Linked DNA regions of Homo sapiens. The protein of the gene in region 2 interacts with the protein of the main gene of each other region in a pairwise test. Each region holds a gene or a part of one and is shown on either strand. Other genes may lie near its edges.

What was found.
Region 1: the proteins of MYBPC1 (region 2) and C1QTNF9 interact in a two-hybrid assay, tested with the Homo sapiens proteins (one large-scale study listed by BioGRID and IntAct).

Annotation. Positions count from the first base shown.
Region 1 is NC_000013.11:24,319,580-24,323,031, reverse strand, and holds the end of C1QTNF9 (complement C1q and tumor necrosis factor-related protein 9A precursor), read right to left. Parts: intron 2,037-3,452; coding exon 1,264-2,036; 3' UTR 501-1,263; downstream 1-500. UniProt on the Homo sapiens protein: Probable adipokine. Activates AMPK, AKT, and p44/42 MAPK signaling pathways.
Region 2 is NC_000012.12:101,601,471-101,604,970, reverse strand, and holds part of MYBPC1 (myosin-binding protein C, slow-type), read right to left. Parts: intron 1-3,500. UniProt on the Homo sapiens protein: Thick filament-associated protein located in the crossbridge region of vertebrate striated muscle a bands. Slow skeletal protein that binds to both myosin and actin.

The DNA.
Region 1 (3,452 bases), on a different chromosome or scaffold from region 2:
CTGGACTCCATGGTGGGCGGGGTGTATGGGACAGGCAGGTGGCTGCACCAGAGGGGCTCAGGAAAGCTCGACGCGGAAAGTGTTAAGACTTTTGGAAATGTTGAGATGGGGCGAAAATGTATTTTGCACAGGTGAAGGAAATCAACTTTGGGAATCAGAGGGCAGATTGTTTTGTGTTGAACTGTGTCTCCCAAAAGAGATGCTGAAGTCCTAACCTGTACATGTGACCTTATTTGAAAATAAGGAGCTGCAGATATGATTAAGATGGGTCATAGTAGATTAGGGAAGCTGTCCTTGTAAGAAGAGGAAAATTTGGCTGATACAGAAGGAGGACAGCCACCTGAAGATGGAGGCGGGGACTGGAGTGATGCTGCCACCAGCTGCCAGAAGCTGGAAGCAGCAAGGCTGCATCCTCCTGTATCCCCTTTGGAGGGAGAATGGCCCTGCTGCTACGGTGATCTCAAACTTCCAGCCTACAGAACTGTGAGAAAGTCCATTTCTGTTGTTTAAAGACTCCCAGTTTGTGTACTTTATTAGAGCAGTCCTAGAAAACACATAGAGATTCAAGTCTGGCAAATAATGATCGAACAATGATTTGTTGGGTAAAATGGTGATTAAAACCTAGGTTAGAAAATGAGCAAAGTGGGAGGGAGAGCACCAGGACAAATAGCTAATGCATGCAGGGCTTAATACCTAGGTGATGGGTTGATAGATACAGCAAACCACCACAGCACATGTTTACCTATGTAACAAACATGCATGTTTTGCATATGTATCCCAGAACTTAAAATAAAATAAAATTTTTTTAAAAGACAAAATGAGCAGTGTCTACAGCTTTCTGGAGTATGACAGCATCACCAGCTTAAAGCTGTTGCTAGTACTAAATTGAATAAACATTTCCCTCTAATTTCCCCTTAATGTCCTCAGAAACACAGATGAGGGATACATCTTCATATGACTCCTCAGAGCACTAAAATGATATTAAAACACTCTTCCCACAAGAAACGCACAGACGAGGGATTCTTCAGATAATAGGAATAAGAAATGTGAAATAAATTAGAATAAACCATGCAGCTATTTTAAATATTTACTCCTGGAAAAATAGTAAGTTACACAGAATCAGTTTTGGGAATAACTTTTCCATTTTCACCTTTTTATGATTATTGTAATAATTGGAGGAATTAATAAAGTAAAACCATCTGAATAAGTTCATCCCAAGCTGATTCTGATGGATGGTGTGGCGGATTTTTAAACTCTCCTCTGTCACGGGCTGCTGAACAGAAGGAACCCTGTGAAAGTTGTGTCATCGTCCTCATCAGCAAACAAGCCATTGAACCTCTCTCCTCCTGTCACCTGCAGCCACACCTCATCCCCGAGCTTCAGCTGCAGGACAATGCCGCCAGAGGCCTGGTCCTCAGAGCTCATGTAAGCATCTTTGGTGTGCAGTATTTTTACTCCATTTTTGACCAAAGACACCTGAACATTTCTGGAGAAAACAGTGATGTGGTAGGTGAAGTAATAGACCCCAGCAATGTGGCACGTGAATTTCCCCGCTGCTGTATCATAATGGTTGAATTCGTTATACAGGATCTTATCAAATTTAATGGGCATATCTGAAGAAGGAAACTTGCTCAGCACCGTGAGCCCCACAGTGAAAGCACTTTTTGGCAAGACTAGAGTCTCACCGATTTTCCCTTTCTCTCCTCGATCTCCTTTCCAGCCTCTTATTCCCCGGACTCCTGGCTCACCCTGGGGCCCCGTGGGTCCAGCTTCTCCTTTGGGACCAGGCTTTCCAATAGGGCCCATGGGGCCCGGTAAACCAGTTGGGCCCAAAGGCCCAATGTTGCCCCTTGGCCCCTCAGGACCAGTGGGACCCACGTCACCCTTATTCCCCTTCTGCCCCTGAGGCCCAGTCTCTCCTCGGAGGCCCTTCTCTCCCATGGGCCCTGCAAGCCCCTTGGGGCCATGTTTTCCTGGGGATCCTCTTGAGCCTTGATCACCTTTGATGCCTTTTGCTTCAACTTTTCCATCTGCTCCTAAATAGAGAAAGAGCAAATAAAGAGATAGCTTGTGAAAGATTCCCTTGTGAACAACTTTGGTTTTTCTATAATTGAGCTCACAAATGAAACAAAGTAGTGCACAGGTTCAGTATATGCCCAGAGTTTAAAATTCAATTACTCCATCTGGGTGCAGTGGCTCACACCTGTAATCCTAGCACCTTGGGAGACCGCGGCAGGAGGACTGCCTGAGGCCAAGAGTTCAAGACCAACCTGGCCAACATAGCAATACCCTGACTCTAAAAAAAAAAAAGAAAAAGAAAAATAAGAAAATAAAATTCAATTACTCCAGCCCAGCTCAGTGGCTCATGCCTGTAATCCTAGCACTTTGGGAGGCCAAGGTGGGCAGACTACTTGAGTCCAGGAATTCAAGATCAGCCTAGGCAACATGGCCAAACCTTATCTCTGCAAAAAATACAAAAATTAGCCAGGCGCGGTGGTGCACAACTGTAGTTCCAGATACTCAGGAGGCTGAGGTGGGAGGATGGCTTGAGCCCAGGAGGCTGAGGCTGCAGTGATCCGTGATCAAACCACTGCACTGCAGCCTGGGCAACAGAGTGAGATTCTGTCTCAAAAAAAATAAAAATAAATGAAAATCAATTACTCCAATTACACACGTGTGTGCACATGGACACACACACATCCCAACACACCTTTTGACTACCGTCTACTAAATTAGTGTCAGGGCTCACGTTAGAAATTACAACCCTACCATCTAAGTCTACCATGCTGGCCATTAAATAATGTCAATCCATGACAGAAAGCACTCTTCAGAGCAGAGACAGGTAGATTAACTGACACTCAACCCTAGTCGTGACATCCTCTAAAAACCTCCTCCCTGGAGTGAACATAAAATAAAGCCTGCATCGAGGCATTGCCCTCTCCTGCCCAACCCCAGCCCCAACCCACCTATCCCACCGGCAATTCATCATCTACAGAAACCTTGCTGCTTCCTTGCACCCCCACCCATACCAAAGAGCCGTGGTTGCAAGTGTGGACTCTGAGGTTAAATGCCAGGTTTCCATTCTGTCCCCATATGCACACAGGACGTCAGATGAGCTAGTGAGCCTCGTGCCTCTGTTCCCTCACATATGGAACTAGGGTAATAAAACTACCTAGCGTCTGGGGATATTGCATTCAGTGAGTCAGTACATGAAAAGCACAAAGTGAAGATTACACAAGTTTGCCACTACGACTACATCCCGACCCATCAGGGACCAGTTCTAGTTCCACCTCCTCCATGCAGTGCTGCCAGATGCACCAAGTCAAAAACTCAGTCTCACTCCTCAGTGCTCATCCACTGCAAGGTTCAAGGTTCAACAAACTACAGCCACAGGCCAAATTCAGCCTCCCTCCCGCAAGCTAAACAAATATGGTTTACATGTTTTTTTGTTT
Region 2 (3,500 bases):
AGGTCACTTAAGGGGCTGAACCTGCATTTTGGTGACCCAGAAAGTCAGTGCCTTCTTAAATGTTGTGCCTTAGGTGGTGCTAAACTCTACTCAGCCAGATTAATTACCTGGAATGGCGTCTATAATAAAGGACAAAGGGGAGTGAGGGGAACAGTTTCATATGCTGACTGACAAGAGTACTAAAGAAGACAGCACACTTCTAGGAGGGATAAAGTAGGAAAGCTAAGAAAAATTGGAAAGAAATTCAAAATACAAATCAATATGAGTCCATTTTTCAAAAGAGCAAATAATTTGGGCCCTCAGGGTGTCACATGCTACTAATAACTGATATCTATAATTTAAGACAAATTATATCCACTGTACTTTATTTTTTAAAGCAAGGAGTAATATATTACATTTTAAGAATGTTTCTATTCAAACTGGTGGAAAAAATAAGGCTCTGAGGTTATATAACAAAATTAACCTTTAGCTGTGCAGAGAATCCAGCTATTCAGAATGATTCAATCAATTTAATCCATATTTATTTACTATGGTCGAATGTTGCCAAAGACTGTACTGTACTCTAATGTTCTGAATAGATGAAGTCTAATTGTACCTTGATCATGTAAATATTCAATGACTCATTATTCAACCTTTGGAATTTCCCTGAATCTACAGGGTTTTTTTTCCTCCCCTAGTCAATTCATTCTTTTGTCCTTCTAATTATGCAAGTTTCATCTCAGGATGTCATTTCACACAGGAAGAGGATTAAAATATGGTCCTTATTACATAGCAACAAATAGCTTCTCATTGTTAACATGGGGCTGGGGGAAAATTGCTAAGATCTGAGGACTTGCCTTCCTCACTACTCTTACCATGTTTTAAAGAATCAAATGGGGTGTGTTTTGCAGGGGAAGATTTACTCAGATTGAAGGAGCTTAAAATTTTAGCATAGGTCAAAAAGAAATTATTGCAAAAGCAATTTGAATTGTTAACAGTTTCCTCCTTTACTGTGTCTTTTTTGGGGATCTTGAATCAGTTATTATTGTTATTATTATTTTGAGACAGAGTCTCACTCTGCCACCCAGGCAGGAGTGCAGTGGCATGATCATGGCTCATTGCAGCCTCCTGGGCTCAAGTGAATCTCCTGCTTCAGCCTCCCAAGTAGCTGGGACTACAGGTGTACACCACCACATCCAGATAATTTTTGTATTTTTTCATGCTGTTTCACCATGTTGCTTGGGCTGGTCTCAAACCCCTGGGCTTAAGCAATTCTCTGGCCTTGGCCTCCCAAAATGCTGGGATTACAGGCATGAGCCATTGTACCTGATCTTGTATCACTTATTTATGTGGCTATAGGGTTATAGGATAAATTTCTTAAAGGCCTTGCTCCAAACTGTTGCTGGACCTCACATTGGGTGACTTTTTAAAAATAGAGGAAGAAGAGTCCTGACGCCAGGTGGGGTCATAAAAATAAAATTCCACCGCAATAAACACAGTGACACTCAATCAATCACCCACCACATCCATATGTGGTCATGGAGAGTTCTTTATGTGGTCATCTCAGGAAAGCGCAGACTGAGGAAGACCCTATCCACCAAAAAGCACCCCTGATAAGAGAGAGAAATCTTCTTTTTTTTTTTTTTGAGACGGAGTTTCACTCTTGTTGCCCAGGTTGGAGTGCAATGGCGCGATCTTGGCTCACCACAACCTCCGTTCTCCCAGGTTCAAGTGATTCTCCTGCCTCAGCCTCCTGAGTAGCTGGGATTACAGGCATGCGCCACCATGCCCTGCTAATTTTGTATTTTTAGTAGAGATGGGGTTTTTCCATGTTGGTCAGGCTGGTCTCAAACTCCCGACCTCAGGTGATCCTCCCACCTCAGCCTCCCAAAGTGCTGGGATTATAGGCATGAGCCACCACGCCTGGCCAGGGAGAGAAATTGTAAAGTCCCACAAACCCAAGACTTATAACCCTTGGAGACAGACATAGATATTGTTCAACTCTGTAGGGTAACTCTTTCATCTAAGTGGGAAAGGCCATGTCCCCACAAGAACAGTGAAGAAACAACCCAACCGTTATCACCTTATGCTGACAACTACAGACCCCCGAATTGGACATGGCTCATTTCAGTAAGAACACAACAGAGGTCATGGAGTATAGACCTTTTATTTGATCTGAGCTTCTATGGGTGAAAGCGAAGATGTATCACCACAAGTAAAAGAAGGAAATATAGTGGTGGGAATGATGGTTATGACTATCATAGCAGCTTTCTTGGCGTGTATTATAAATATTACACTAGTGAGGAGGTGAGCAGTGGTTGTTACATCCCTTATGTTGAGGGAAATGCCATCAGTTTATGTGAAATATGAGGCATTTAATACCTTGTGCCAGACAAGATTTCTGAGTTTACTGCTTTAGGAGGAAAATGCTTGAAATCTTTCCATATGTTAGGCCCTGTTCTAAGCACTTTACCTGTCCGGGCATGGTGGCTCATGCCTGTAATCCCAGCACTTTGGGAGGCCGAGGCAGGTGGATCACTTGAGGTCAGGAGTTTGAGACCAGCCTGGCCAATATGTTGAAACCCTATCTCTACCAAAAAAATACAAAAATTAGCTGGGCGTGGTGGCGCATGCCTGTAACCCCAGCTACTCAGGAGGCTGAGGTAGGAGAATTGCTTGAACCAGGGAGGTGAAGGTTGCAGTGAGCCGAGATCATGCCACTGCACTCTGACCTGGGCGACAGAGCAAGACTCCATCTCAAATAAAAAATAAAATAAGATAAAATAAGCACTTTACCTGGTGTATTTCAGTTAATTCTTACTGAGACCCAAAGAGTTGATACTGTTTTATTCACATACAGATGAGGAAACAGAGGCATACAAAGTGTAAGTAATTCAGTCTATGGTGCAGCTGGAATTTGAGCTGTCTAGAATGTTCTACAAATAGTATAATTTTTTTTATGTCACCATGTTTAATAATGCATAATATTTAAGATGCATAAAGAAAAAGCCAAGACACATACTGTGTGCATAACAACCCTAAAGACATCTAACTCTAAACATGACAAAATGTAGAATTAAAAAGGACACATTTTGAGTTTTAAGTAGAGCATTCTGTTCCAAGATTCATTAAAATTTTTAGAAGGCAAACGATATCACCAGATGCAAGCAAAGCAATTTATAAAGAGTATTTAGGAAAGATTTGGACAATTTTAGAGAAGAAGAATACTTACCAAAATAGCTAAATACACATCAAAAAAAAAGAATAGAACAAAATCATAAGATCTAACATTTGACATATTATTAAATGTAATTTTAGACGCTGCCCTGATGTGCCAAATTGGCCTAAAAAGGATTCCTAAGGGAGTATAAAAGGGCAAGTCTTATCAAAGTGGATTTAGACTTGAAAGGCATAATGAAAGTCAGATTACAGTTAGCTTTTTGTGAACTCATTATAGAAAGAGAAATAAGTGTGAGATTGAATGATTCTGGTCTCCGCCTCTGCCAAATCAATCAATTCAT